Linked DNA regions of Homo sapiens. The protein of the gene in region 1 interacts with the protein of each later gene in a biochemical or structural test. Each region holds a gene or a part of one and is shown in the gene's direction. Other genes may lie near its edges.

Evidence for each region.
Region 2: the proteins of FBP1 (region 1) and EPAS1 form a complex in vitro, tested with the Homo sapiens proteins (one study listed by IntAct).

The regions. Positions count from the first base shown.
Region 1 is NC_000009.12:94,636,510-94,643,897, reverse strand, and holds the start of FBP1 (fructose-1,6-bisphosphatase 1), read left to right. Parts: upstream 1-4,379; 5' UTR 4,380-4,587; coding exon 4,588-4,757; intron 4,758-7,388. UniProt on the Homo sapiens protein: Catalyzes the hydrolysis of fructose 1,6-bisphosphate to fructose 6-phosphate in the presence of divalent cations, acting as a rate-limiting enzyme in gluconeogenesis. Plays a role in regulating glucose sensing and insulin secretion of pancreatic beta-cells.
Region 2 is NC_000002.12:46,356,403-46,363,427, forward strand, and holds part of EPAS1 (endothelial PAS domain-containing protein 1), read left to right. Parts: intron 1-321; coding exon 322-406; intron 407-4,235; coding exon 4,236-4,354; intron 4,355-4,482; coding exon 4,483-4,688; intron 4,689-7,025.

The DNA.
Region 1 (7,388 bases):
CATGCTACTGCAATCCCTCTCACATACACCACTTGGCTTTTGTTTTTCTTTTTGTGTTTTTGTTAGAGACACACTCTCACTCTATTGCCTAGGCTGGAGTGCAGTGCTGTGATCACGGCTCACCGCAGCCTCGACCTCTTGGGCTCAAGTGATCCTCCTCCTTCAGCCTCTCCAGTAGCTGAGACTACAGGCATGCGCCACCACTCCTGGGTAATTTTTAAATTTTTTTAGAGACAGTGTTTTCCTTATGTTGTCCAGGCCGCTTTTAAAATTCCTGGGCTCAAGTGGTCTGTCTGCCTCGGCAACCCAGAGCATTGGGATTACAGGTGTGTGCACTGTGCCTGGCCTGTTTTTCTTTCCTGTGGCACTAACCGCCCCCACAGAGGGGAAAGTAAGCAGTGGAGCCCTGGGTTGAGGGCGGCTGTTGTAGGGGCAGGGACTGTCCACACTGTTACTTCTCCACTGCCCGCCTCCAACATAACCCCATCGTGGGAGCTGGGTGAGGAAATGCATGAGCACTGATTCTTCGCAGGATTTCGAGTGTTACACATGTGGTAATACTGCTCACATCACTTGAATCTGCAATCCCATGTGAAGTTGGAGTATGTGGCAAGAAGCAACTCTGCGAGGGTGGTGGGTGGAGGAGGGAGGGGCCCAACCCACAGGCCAGGAACCCATGTGAGGTGGCCGCCTTCCTCTGTCTCTTGCTAATACCTGGGTGATGGGCTTTATGCATCTTGACCCAGAAAAGAGCGAGTCACAATCGACCAATATGATGGAGGGGATATCACTGCACACCAGGCAAATACAGGCTCAGCTGCCAATTCCCACATCCCTCTAGCCCCTTTTGATGGCCAGGGAACTTTCTTGCTTCTGTTCACATGAAAACAACAGTTGGCCCTACCCATGTAACGAAGCAAACACTTACATACTGTGTACTTACTACATGCTGGGCACTGTTCTTAAACACTACCAGCACTGCCTGTATAATTCTCCCAGCAACCCTATGAGGTGGCTACAATCATTAGCCCCAGTTTACAGATGAGCCAATGGTTGCTTGGTGAGGTTTAGCCAATTGCACAGGCTTGCACAGCCAGTAAGTGGCCAGGCCAGGGTTTGGACCCAAGCCATGCAGCCCCAGAGTCTGTGCACTTCACCACAATGCGACGTGGCCTAGTCCCAAGGGGAATGGCTTGCCTTGTAGGCAATGAGCTGCCCATCATCGTGGGTGACAAGCAGAAGTGACTGAGCTAGACAGGGGTCTCCTCCACGTATTCAGTGTGTCCCCTGTGTGTAGCTCTGAGCTAAGCACTCTGCCAATGCCATCTCATTTCAGCCCGATGACACCACTGCCAGATGGAACCATTATTCCACTATATGGATGAACAAACTGGGTTTACAGAGATTAGGTAACTGGTCCGAGATCTCTGGCTGCTGAGGGCTGGAGCTGGGACTCAAACAAGTTTGCTTAATGCAGATCCCAAGCTCTTCACCTCTTATCAGGGATGGTGTCCAATGAGGGTTGGCTGGACTAGATGACTTTTACGGTCCTAGCCAATCCAAGATCCTGAGGGACTGAGAGTCTGGCAAGTAAAGGGGCACACTCCCCTAGTTACTAGCTCTAGCTCTCCCCTAGTAACTAGTTACTATGCCAAAAATACTAGTCATCACATTTCAGTTCTTTTTTTTTTTTTTGAGATTGAATCTCGCTCTGTTGCCCAGGCTGGAGTGCAGCGGCAGGATCTTGACTCACTGCAACTTCTGTCTCCCGGGTTCAAGCGATTCTCCTGCCTCAGCCTCCTGAGTAGCTGGAATTACAGGTGCACACCACCATGCCCGGCTAATTTTTTATTTTAGTAGAGATGGGTTTCACCATGTTGGCCAGGCTGGTCTTGAACTCCTGACCTCAAGATCTGCCCGCCTCAGCCTCCAGTTTGTTTGTTTTTCTTTTTTTTTTTTTTTTTTGAGATGGAGTTTTGTTCTTGATGCCCAGGCTGGACTGCAATGGTGCCATCTCTGCTCACTGCAATCTCCGCCTCCCAGGTTCAAGCGATTCTCCTGCCTCAGCCTCCTGAGTAGCTGGAATTACAGGCATGCACCACCATGCCCAGCTAATTTTTGTACTTTTAGTAGAGACGGGGTTTCTCCATGTTGGTCAGGCTGGTCTCGAGCTCCCAACCTCAGGTGATCTGCCCGCCTCGGCCTCCCAAAGTGAAGTGCTGGGATTACAGGTGTGAGCCAGTGAGCCGGGCCTATTTGAGTTTTTATGTTTAAGGATGTATTTCTCTTACTATTTTTTTTAACACAGGGTTTTTCCTGAAAAGTTGCCTGAGGAACAAAGAGTTAAATAAGACCCTTAAAGGATCAACTCTCTTTGCCAGGCATCTAAGTCCCCTCTGGGGCTTTGAGGAGACAGTCGCTGTCTTTCCTGGTGGTACCACCACCTTCCTTCATTCAACGCCGCCGCATCTGACAACCCTGGGCACAGGAATCTGCACCCCAGGTCTCCACGGTGAATCCAGCAGTCAATTTTCAGAGCTTGTCCTGCCTGCCCCATCCACACCGCTTGGCACATGGGTCAGCCCGCCTTTACTTACCTTCTTCATCTGGCTTCCCGGATGTCACATCTCTTGGTTTTTGGTTGGTTTTTCCAGTTGGCTTTTCCAATTTATACCTGCAGCATGGATCTCTCCTCTGAACTCCAGATACATAAATCTGTCTATTTGACATTGCCTTGGATGTCTAGAAGGCATTTCAAACTTAGCAGGTCCCACACTTAGCTCCTAATTGTCAGTCCTGCCTCCAGCACACGCCCCTCTCGGTGTTCCCCATCGCAGTCGAGGACAACTGCATTCTTCTAGTTTCTCAGGCCTCAAACCTTAGAATCATCCGAGACTCCTGTCTCTCACATATCTCATCTGTCAACGAATCCCATCAGCTCTACCTTCAAAATATGTCCAGAATCCACCACCTCCACTGCTAACACCTGGCTCACTATCTCCTAGTAACCTGGAGGGCACTGTCTTCAGTCTGATCTTCACACAGTAGCCGCAGTATGAAGACACAGGGTAGACCATGCCTCTCTTCTTCTCCAAACTCTCCAGTGGGTTCCTCCTAGTCAAAGTCAAACCTCACTTGGCCCTCTAGACCTCACCTCTGCATCCTCCCGCTGGCCTTATCTCCTCCACCTCTGACCCTTGCTAGCTCTATTTCAGCTCCACCGGTCTCCTGGCCATTCCCTGAACCTGAAACATGGTCTCCTACCCCAGGGCCTGTGCACTGGCTCTCCCGGTGAGGAAACCGCTCTCCTTCCCATCTCCACCGGCGCGTTGCATCCTTCACCTCTTTGCTCACATATCCCTTTCTCAGAGAAGCTTTTACTGAGGCCTCTGCTCACCCTCTTCTCCCCTCCACATTCCGTGTCTTCCTTTTCTATTTCGTTTCTCTCTATGGTACTTATGGCTTATGTAACAAACTAATCTATTGTTTATATATTTATTTTTACTGTTTCTCTGTGAAAACGTACACTCGAAAAGGGCAGGAGTTTTGTCTGTTTGGATCAGGCTCCACCCCTGGAAGGTAGGACAGTGTTCAGCACAGCAGGTGCTCAATAGGTGTTGTTTCGTGAATCAGCACATCAATTGCAGCATTGTGGCTACCAGGGGGTCAGGATGCGGGCGGTGGAGCCCTCTGGCCTTTGTGTGGTAGCCGAGGACTCTGTGTCAGCGACCGTTTTCCGGGAAACTTCCGGGCGAGACTCACATCTTGGAAATTCAAATACTCAATAGCTCTCGAATTCTAGGAATCTTGAGAAGAGGCCTGGATTAAGGATTCAGACGTGGGCCCTCAGATGGGTGAGAAACGGGGACTCTGTGTCTCCTAGCGGGGACAGAAGGGCCAGGTGACAGGCCAGGCAGAGTGGACGGGGCTTGGGCAGGGGGCGGGGGCAGGCAGCCACACGGGGCAGGAGCTGCAGAGCTAAAGCCAGGCCATGTGGACTGGCTGCGGGTTTCGCTGCCTAGCTGGTGGCATTGAGCAAGTTACTTAACCTTTCTGAACTTCCGTTTTATGATTTTGGAGGAAACAGTCATAGCTTTCTCTCTGGCAGAGTCCGATGGCCCGAGTCCCGCTCCACAGTGCGGGTGGAGGGCACGGAGGGGTGTGTGTGGGGGGCGACAGCCCAGGAAGACTAGGGGGCGGCAGGGCGCGTGGGGGCGGGGGTTGGGAGACCGCAGGGAGGATCCCCGACCTTGTCTGAAGATCCAAGCAGGCGGAGCCGCGGTCTGGTCCGCGGGGTAGGCGGGGCGCAAGAGTGTTCCCGGGGGCGGGGGGCCGACCCGCGTCTAAAGGTTTCCGCGATTCACCCGCCGGCGCCTGGCCTGGCCCAGTTGCACCACGAGCGCTGCGGACACTCGGGGCGGCAGTCGGTCTGTCAGTCCTCCCGCCAGGTCCCGCGGCCCGCACCTGCCGCCCGCACCTGCAGCTCCGCACCTGCGGCCAGTGCCTACTGCCCTCTCTTGCCGCCCGCACCTGCAGCCCCGCACCTGCCGCTTGCACCTGCAGCCCCGCGCTCTACCCGGTTCAAGCATGGCTGACCAGGCGCCCTTCGACACGGACGTCAACACCCTGACCCGCTTCGTCATGGAGGAGGGCAGGAAGGCCCGCGGCACGGGCGAGTTGACCCAGCTGCTCAACTCGCTCTGCACAGCAGTCAAAGCCATCTCTTCGGCGGTGCGCAAGGCGGGCATCGCGCACCTGTGAGTCGGGCCTTGGGCGGTGGGCCCCGTCCTGTCTGTCTGCCTGGGGAGCCTGCCCGGCGGGCTGACGTTGGGCCCTCTGAGCCTCCTGCCGTCAGCCTCTGTCTGTCCGTCTGATGTCTGAGCGCCTCTCTCGCTCTCTGTCTGGTAGCCCCTCTCTCCAGAAGCTGGCTCAGCCTCACTCAAGTCCTCATCTCCTCCCTTGACCTTGGAGGGGCCCACCTGGGGGTCCGTCTCACAGGTGTACACCTGATTCCATCTTGCATTCCTCTTCTCTGCCCTGAGCAGCCTGCCTCGTACCCCTCTCAGCCGGCCAAGTGTGGGCACCTGGCCTGCCCGTCATACCCGCCCTAGCCTCAGACAGGAAAGTGCTAGCTCAGGTGCCTTCCTTCCCCATTTCTTCTTTGTCCTCCTTCACTCTTTCTGCAATTAGGGACCCAAGTCAGGTTTCTAATCCAGTTATCTCTGACCTGAAACAAGACCTGTTAGGAGCGAGTGTCCCCCCCGCCCCCCCCGCAAGCAGGCTGGGAGGTCTCCTGTGTGTCCAGAGCCTTTAGGAGCAGCAGGGCTTGTGTGCAAAGGAGCTCCCGTGGGCTGCCCCTTGCTGGGACAGTTGCCATGCTGTGCCAGAAACAGGAAACACCCAGGGCTTCAAAACCCCTATCGATTTGCAATGATGGTGTGTGCAGCCTCTGCCCAATTAGTGGAAAGCTCAAAAGTGGTTTGTAGAATGGTTCTGAATGCGCTATGGAGTGCATCTCGAACGTCACTGGGCACAGGAATCATTTGGGGATCTTGGTAAGATGTGTGCCCTCCTTCCATAGCTCTGGGACAGGTCCTGAGATTCTGCATTTCTAAGAAGTTCTCCTGTGGTGGGTGCTGCCCATCAGATACTGTTTGTCTACTCATCACATTGTGAGTAGCAAGGGGTCAAGTGGAGTGGAGACTCAAAGGACCCCTTCTTGTGAGGTTTTTTGTAAGTCACACAACATCCTTTCGTTTGTGTTGGTGTGCACAGGTATTTTCTTTTTCTTTTCTTTTTTTTTTTTTTTTTGAGATGGAATTTTGCTCTTGTTGCCCAGGCTGGAGTGCAATGGTGCGATCTTGGCTCACCGCAACCTCTGCCTCCCAGGTTCAAGCGATTCTCCTGCCTCAGTCTCCCGAGTAGCTGGGATTACAGGCATGTGCCACCATGCCCAGCTAATTTTGTAATTTTTTTTAGTAGAAACGGGGTTTCTCCATGTTGGTCAGGCTGGTCTCGAACTCCCGACCTCCGGTGATGCCTTGGCCTCCCAAAGTGCTGGGATTACAGGCATGAGCCGCCGTGCGCAGGTATTTTCTAGCTAACTGATCCACACTTTTAACTGAAGTGTAACTGGGTTTTCAGATTGTCCATACACTTTACTAACATTCCCCGCACTTATGCACACTATAAAAATGACACATGATGGGCTGGGCGCGTAGGCTCTAGCCTGTCATCCCAGCACTTTGGGAGGCCGAAACAGGTGGATTGCCTGAGGTCAGGAGTTCAAGACCAACCTGATCAACATGGTGAAACCCCGTCTCTACCAAAAATTAGCTGGGTGTGGTGGCAGGCGCCTGTAATCCCAGCTACTCGGGAGGCTGAGGAAGGAGAATTGCTTGAACCCAGGAGGCAGAGGTTGCAGTGAGCCGAGATCGCATCATTGCACTCCAGCCTGCGCGACAAGAGCGTGACTTTGTCTTAAAAAAAAAAAAAAAAGACGCATGATGCTCAGAGCTGACCTGAACAAATACAACCCTGCTACTTGGGTTTGGAATGCATTTCTCCATTCTTAAAAACTCTTCTCCGCCCCGCATCCTGCAATCTAGATTCCTTTTCTTACTGGCAGGCTGTCTGGCTTTGGTCCCACAGTATGGACTGGTGGAGGTAATTCATGTAAAGGAGTGGTATGATCACATTTATTTTTGAATATTAAGCAGACATGTTAAGGAAGGTGATGACTCCATTACTGTTGCCTCTGGCCCCTCTTAATAATACATTCCTAAGGATTCTTATTTTAGAAACATACCCAGGTGAAATCTTAAGCTTTAATTTACAGCTAGTATAGGTGGCTCACAGCTTTAACTGCCTTTGAGGACCAGGGATATATTTTAAAAAGAGGGCTTGTCGACTGGGTGTGGTGGCTCACACCTGTAATCCCAGCACTTTGGGAGGCTGAGACGGGTAGATCACTCAAAGTCCAGGTGTTTGAGACCAGCCTGGCCAACATGGTGAAACCCTGTCTCTACTAAAAACACAAAAATTAGCCAGGCATGGTGGCAGGCGCCTGTAATCCCAGCTACTTGGGAGGCTGAGGCAGGAGAATTGCTTGAACCCGGGAGGCGGAGGTTGCAGTGAGCCCAGATCGTGCCACTCTACTCCAGCCTGGCGACCGAGTAAGACTCTGTCTCAAAAAAAGAAAAAAAAGGGCTTGTCATGTCTGATATTGTTTAAAAAATGTGTCAGTACCTTTCACACCCCTAGAGAGACTGAGAAATGTAAGATGTGTTTTGAGGTGTCCCACTGTCTAAGTAACCTTAGACAGTGGGACCTTGGATAGTGAGATTTTGATGGTGGGGCCTGGATGAAGCATGTTAATTTTGGCTACG
Region 2 (7,025 bases), on another chromosome or scaffold:
CAAATGCCCACGGTGACCCTCGCTGACCTCAGGCCACACGCCTCAGGCCACGCTCCCACCCCCAAGCATTGGGTTTGGCTTTGCTCATGTCCATCCTGGTAGACAGCTCTCTACTGACTCATTAACAGACCAAGTCTCTGTCATCATCAGTAGTCCCCGATTACATCTTTCTGTCTGTGGACCTGACACTGGACTGGGATTATGAGAAAACCCAATTCAGTCTCCTCCCTGCCTCCAAATCTGGAAGGTGGCTCAGCTTACTCTTGGAGTCTTTTACTTCACTGTTAGGAATAATGATGCCTAACCTTGTTTTTGAAACAGGTGGAGCTAACAGGACATAGTATCTTTGACTTCACTCATCCCTGCGACCATGAGGAGATTCGTGAGAACCTGAGTCTCAAAAATGGTATCCTTAATTGTGTTTACTTCCTTCTTGCCCCCACTGGGTGGGAATCTGCCTCCCCTTTGTCTACGGGTATAAGGGAGATAGCTCATGGCCCTTGTGATGCAGGAAAAATGGATGTCCTTAAAAAATTTAAGTATGTAGCCTGTGAGATGAGATTGGGGCATTGAGAGGATCCAGTACTCAGAAATATCTCCTGCTGGCCCTGCATGGTGCCTGGTGTCCCACTACTAGGGGACACCTTTGGGTTAGGACACTGTCTCTAGGAGGTTTCATCACCCAAGAGTCAAGCATCTCTGCCAAATGACACCACCCAAACCAATGAGGAACTAGTCTGTGCCAAAGTGCTCATAGTAACTACTGTAGTTATCTATTGCTGTCTAACAAACCACCTATAACATAGGGCTTTGATGATTATCTCCCAGGGTTCTGTGGGTTCAGTGGGTGGGTCTTGTACTCCATGTGATGTCAGCTGGGCTGCAGTCATCTGGGGGCCAGACTAGGCTGGGGTGATCAGGATAGCTCACACACGTCTGGGACCTTGTGGCAGGTGGCTGGAACCCTGGACTCAGTTGGCATGCTGGGACAACAGGACTGTTCTCTCACTCTATGGAGACTCAGAGACTCTCCCTCTCCATATGGTGTCTCTAGGGTAGCCAGACATCTTACGTGGCAGTTTAGGGCTCCCAGAAGCACTAAAGTGGAAGCTGCCAGGCCTTCTGAAGGCTTTGTCCCCAGATTGGCAGAGCATCACTTCTGCCCCATCTTGTTGGTTAGAGCATGTTACAGGCCAGCCCTGGCTCATTGTGGGAGGAAACTACACGAAGCCATGAGTGTCAAAAGGCATGGCTTGTTGGAGCTACTTTTGGAGAAGAGCTACCACAGGAAATGGTACCCTGATGAGACGCAGGTCAAGTAGGTTTTGATGGAGAAGAGGTTTAAAAAGATGTAGCATTCAGGACCTTACCCATGGGGATACCCAGCAGGTGCCAGTAGATGAGAGGACCCACACAGGCAGAAAGCACGTTGCAATGGTTGCAATGGCAGTGGAGCTTCCTGTCTTGTAACTGTGGCCATTCAACAAAGGCATGAATAGGGACATTGTTAAGAGGACTGAAGCTTTGGTCAGAATTGGGGCTTAATGACTGTCAAGGTCCCTTCCAAACCTGAGATTCTGTCACTGGTCTGGGGAGATTCTGTGCATGTCTAGATGTCCTCTTTAACAACCTCACCTGTCACTGCCATGGGGCTTGTGCTTGTCCAGCCTGAATAACAGAGGCAGTGAGGCTAAGCCTACAAGGTTTGGCTCTTATTACCACACACGCTGCAAAAACAGACACTTCATTGGCTCACCTCCACCCTATTACAGACTGAGTCTGCAGTCCACATTTGGGCCTGCAAAGTACAGAATCACAACCACCTCCTCTTCTACCACTGCCACAGCTCCCTCACCCAGCTCCTCTGCTCTCTCTTCTGCAGGCCTTAGACCACCTGGGTCCTAGGGTACACTGGCAGAGAGCACCCTGTAGGCTGCTCAGTGTCTTGTCTGGTTCTGTGGGGAAAGGGCTACCAGACTTTCTAAAGCTCTCTAAAAAGAGGATTCATGTTCTGCATGGGTAGGTGCTTGAAGCCTGAGAAAGCCTGAGAAAACCAAAGACTGATTTCTTCTGTACTCCAGAAACCCTTTGGCCTTTGGGTTCTTAGTGTCAGTTCAGCCACTGACCATAGTCTGAGTTTGAGTCTGTGACCAGAAGCAAGTACCCTACTTCTCTGTTCCTCAGAGTCTTTCTTTTCAAATTGATGGTATTGGACTAGGCAAAGGCGACAACCTTTCAGTTCTCAAGTGCCATGATTCACAGCCAAGTGACCTCTAATTATCTGAGTAGAACTTTAGATCTCTTGATCTGCATATTGAGGACTTGGGATCAGTCAAACTCAATGCAACAGCAAATCTTCACTGAAGGTGCCAGCCTATGGGTGGACTCGTGATCTAGACCTAAAGGGTTAGTGTGAGTTCCTAGAGGAAAAGAAAGCCATGAGGCAGATTGTGGAAGGCTTTGAAGGCCAGGTGGAGGGCCTTGAACTTTATTCCATAGACAATGGGGAGCTATTGAAGGTTTCTGTGCAGGGGTGGAGTGATCTGTGTGGAGCAGTGTTTAGAAAGAATGAACAAGGCCAGGCACGGTGGCTCACGCCTGTAATCCCAGGACTTTCGGAGGCCAAGGTGGGTGGATCACGAGATCAAGAGATCGAGACCATCCTGGCCAACATGGTGAAACCCCATCTCTACCAAAAATACAAAAATTAGCTGGGCGTGGTGGCGCGTGCCTGTAGTCCCAGCTACTTGGGAGGCTGAGGCAGGAGAATCACTTGAACCCAGGAGGCAGAGGTTGCAGTGAGCCAAGATCACGCCACTGCACTCCAGCCTGGCGACAGAGCAAGATTCTGTCTCAAAAAAAAAAAAAAAAAAAAAAAAGATCAAATGTCAGCATGGGGAGAATCCAGAGGTTAGCAAGTTAAGAGGCCTCAATAATACCCCAGCAACAGCCACAAATGAATCCCTCCAGCCCCCTTATACCCAACAACTGGTCTGGTCCTGGTGGTGGGGCCAGATCCCAAGATACAGGTATATCTCATTGTATGCTAACCCCACCTCTGAAAATTAAAATGGCAAGAATCATAATTTGGTATGGGAGAAATGGTTTTATAATCGTGATGAAGGAATGTTCTCTCTTTTTTAAAAAAATTCACTATTCAGTCTGTTACTGAGTGGGGTCCCCTAAGGATGTTGAAGTTTTGTTCAAGGGTGCCACAGTTCCTTTGACACATAACTCTTCAGGAATATGTCAGTCAAGATCCTCTGGAAGTTTAAGTGCAGGGGCTGGTGACTGTTCCTGGAGGAAGGAGTGTGACTATTCGAAACAAGGCTCTAGATTGTTCTATGATGCTGGGTAGGGGGCAGGATTATATCTTTGAAAGTAGGTACCAGAGATGGTGGTGTAGGCAGGATTTAGACACAGACAAGTGGGATTCAGCTGGCACTCTTCATTACTTTGTTTTACAAAAAGTGGAAAATGGTTCTGAATCGGGAGGCTGTTTGGCAACTATAAGGAAGTAAGCTATATTGCTGGTCTTGGTGATTTAATTTTTGCTGAGAGAGAGGATATGATCCAGGTTGAGTTAATCCATAAAGTGGACTTGCTCACCAAGTCCACTGTAAGGAGATTCGTACCAGAGTTCTCTCTAGAGCCTTGATACATATGTCACTTCAGGGACAAAGCTAATGGCATGGTATCCTGAACACAGCTATTGCAGTTTGCAAATGGGGTACAGGAGGGGTTAAATTCCTCCTGAGAGACAGGTTATAAAGGAAAGACGGGAGTGTCGGAGAGACATTTCTAACCTGTGAGGAAGGCTTACACCCTTGGAGTAACTGTGGCCTCACTCAGACTGTCCCTTGGAATTTCTGCGAGAAGACCTGGGCCTGCCCCAGGAAAGGGTGGCTGAGTTAGTGGCTGATAGGCAGTCGTTGTGTCGCTGCTCTGAAGGCACCACTGACCATGTTCCAGATGCAATGGGAAATCAAATGATGGAGCAGCTCCTCCCTTGTGGGAGTTTATGCTCCAGTTGAGGAGATAAGCTTGAGAGTGGGAACCATTAGTTCACAGGCCATGATGGAGCTCAGTGTTGATGGCAGACCACAGGTGCTAAGAGAGCAGATATTTGGAAAATATAAACAATAGGCTGCCAAGAAAAACTGCAGCTGGGCCCCTCTCATGAATATCCATATAAAACTGACTTCAGCTGGTTCTTCCCATCCTTCCACATCCAGGCTCTGGTTTTGGGAAAAAAAGCAAAGACATGTCCACAGAGCGGGACTTCTTCATGAGGATGAAGTGCACGGTCACCAACAGAGGCCGTACTGTCAACCTCAAGTCAGCCACCTGGAAGGTAGGGCAACATCAGGCCTGGGTTGGAGTCCCAGGTGTAGGGTAACGGCGGTGCAGGGGATGCCTAAGGCCCTACCCCCACCCCCAGCACTCTCGGCTCCATGTCTGACCCTTCCACGCCTGTCTCAGGTCTTGCACTGCACGGGCCAGGTGAAAGTCTACAACAACTGCCCTCCTCACAATAGTCTGTGTGGCTACAAGGAGCCCCTGCTGTCCTGCCTCATCATCATGTGTGAACCAATCCAGCACCCATCCCACATGGACATCCCCCTGGATAGCAAGACCTTCCTGAGCCGCCACAGCATGGACATGAAGTTCACCTACTGTGATGACAGGTAGGGGGCCATGGGTGTGTATGCTGTGGGCAGAGATGGGTCTTACCTGTGTGTGTGGGGAGTTGTGCCTGTATTAAAGGTGTGGAACTGAACATAGACGTGGTATTGCCGGGTGCATGTTCGTGGACCTGTGCCACTGTTTCATTGCATCAGTGCCCCTCAGAGGTTCCCGGTACTGTATTTGGTGGTCTCCCATTGACAGAGCCTCAGGGTCCATCTGCAGAGCTTTCCTGGTGTGCAACTCTTCTCATCATTGTGGTGTGAACATATTTCTCCATACGTGTATCAGGCTCCTGAGGAAATTCTCAAGGCAGTCTTCTGCCCCAGGAGAAAGAGTCTAGAGACTTCCATCTGTACTCCTGCTTCAGAGGCCAGTAAGGAGCATCAGCTTCTGCCCTGGAGACTGACCCTCTTCCATTACTGACTGAGCCTTTCCCTCCGCCTTGTTCCTTCCTGCATGCAACTCCATTCCGGCCAGTGTCCAGCCATTTTGAAGAAGATGAAGGTAGCTGAGCCAGATGCTAACCCCCCAGTGCCAGGCCCAGTGTCTCTTAGGAGACACAGTAGTGATTAAGAGCATGGGCTTCAGGACTAGATGGCTTAGGTTCAAATTTAGTAATAAATGTTCAGTGTTAGCTCTTATTATCACCTTTATTAGAGTTGTTGAAAGAGTGCCTAAGACTGCTTAGGCATGTCATGCCATCTCGGGTTCTTAGCTCATTTAGAAGATTGAAGCAGGTGGGGAAGAGACTGGGGTTGTCATAGGAGGGAGTATTTAGATACCCTACAGCTCCTAACTCCCCCACCAGCCCTGCCTCTGGGACTGTGGAGCCTGATGATGGGAGGTAGGAGGAGGAAGATGGGGAGAACAGATGCCCGGAGCAATGGCCGGCCCCAGGGAGGGAAGGAAATGCAGAAGACTGGGCCCAGGGTAGGCCTGGCTTGAGTAAGCGCCACTGGGGCTTGCTGAGCAGCACCCCCCGCATGCGCCCTTCCTGGCAGAGATCTCCCTGCCTGACCTCAGCTTTCTGCAGCATCTAGAGCCGCCATGTGTCCCAGGGTGACAGTTCCTGTGGCAGCTCTTTGCCACCCCCAACTCTTTGCCACTCTTCTCTCATCTTCTAGGGTTTCTCCTCAGGAAACCCTCAGATCTCAGTTTCCCCTTCTCCAAAATAGAGATAACACTTTCTAACCTGTTTCATGGGGTCACTGTAAAATGAGATAATGGCTGTGCAAGCACTTTGAGAAGTCCAGACACCACAACACATGTGAGGCTTCTTGTTATTGCTTATATCTTACTTCCTGTCCTTGGCCTCCTCCAAAGCAAAATCTTCCACTAAACTCAAGGAGCTGAAACCACTTCTGAAGGCAGTTAGTGGCTGGGGGGCAGGAAGAGGAAGAATCTGACCCCCAGATCAGCAAGAATCTGCCTTGTCTTCCTCAGCTAGCAGGAAACCATGGAACCCCAGGAAAAAAAGCTCCTGCTCAGCCTCCCCTAGGCCTACCCACTTTTCTCTTATCAGCTGGACATCCCAAGGGCATCTGGTTTCTTCATGGGAGGGACCCTCCTCTCCAGGATGGGGTTTCTCTCCTCTGATTCCAGACCGGCCTGGTGTTGGTTGGTCGCCCCTTCTTAGAGTTGGCCACCACTTGTGGCACAATTTCAGAACTTTTGTAAAAGTATCCTTGAGTCATTCCTGTCCTTCAGTTCTGACCACAGTAGGGCCAGGATTCACAGCCTTTGGAGCTAGTGGGTAGTTATATAAGTAGAAAGAAATGCTCTAACCTCATAGGGAGAAAATGTCATGCATGAAGCCTTCCGTCCTGGAACTTCGACACAGTCACCATTTATTGTAATTGTTAGTGGTGGTGGTGGTGGTGGTGGTAGTGGTGGTGGTGGTGGTGGTGGTGGTGGTGGTGGTGGTGGTGATAATGATGGTGGTTCAAGAAGAAGATTGCACTTTTAGTGACAGGCACTGCAGGAATCCATGTTATAGGTAAGGTTATTTATCAGATGCAGTCTTTGTATTCAGGTGAACATTCTGGGCAGAAGACACAGCTTTGTGTACCTCAGTAGTCTTGTGAGATAACATGGACAATCCCACTGCATAGCCCCTGTGTCACTGGCTTTGAGGTGAAGTGGCTCAAGCCGACGTAGCCATATAGCCTGGGAGCATATATAGTGCTGGGGATGATGAAAGTCAGATACGTGCTTCACCCTGGTGAATGAAGCACATCCGTAACATAACTCCATAAGCACTGGGAAAACCCTACTGTCCTAGAAAATAACTTGGCATCCCTACATAATAGAAAAGAGATTTTTTTTAAGCTTAAGAT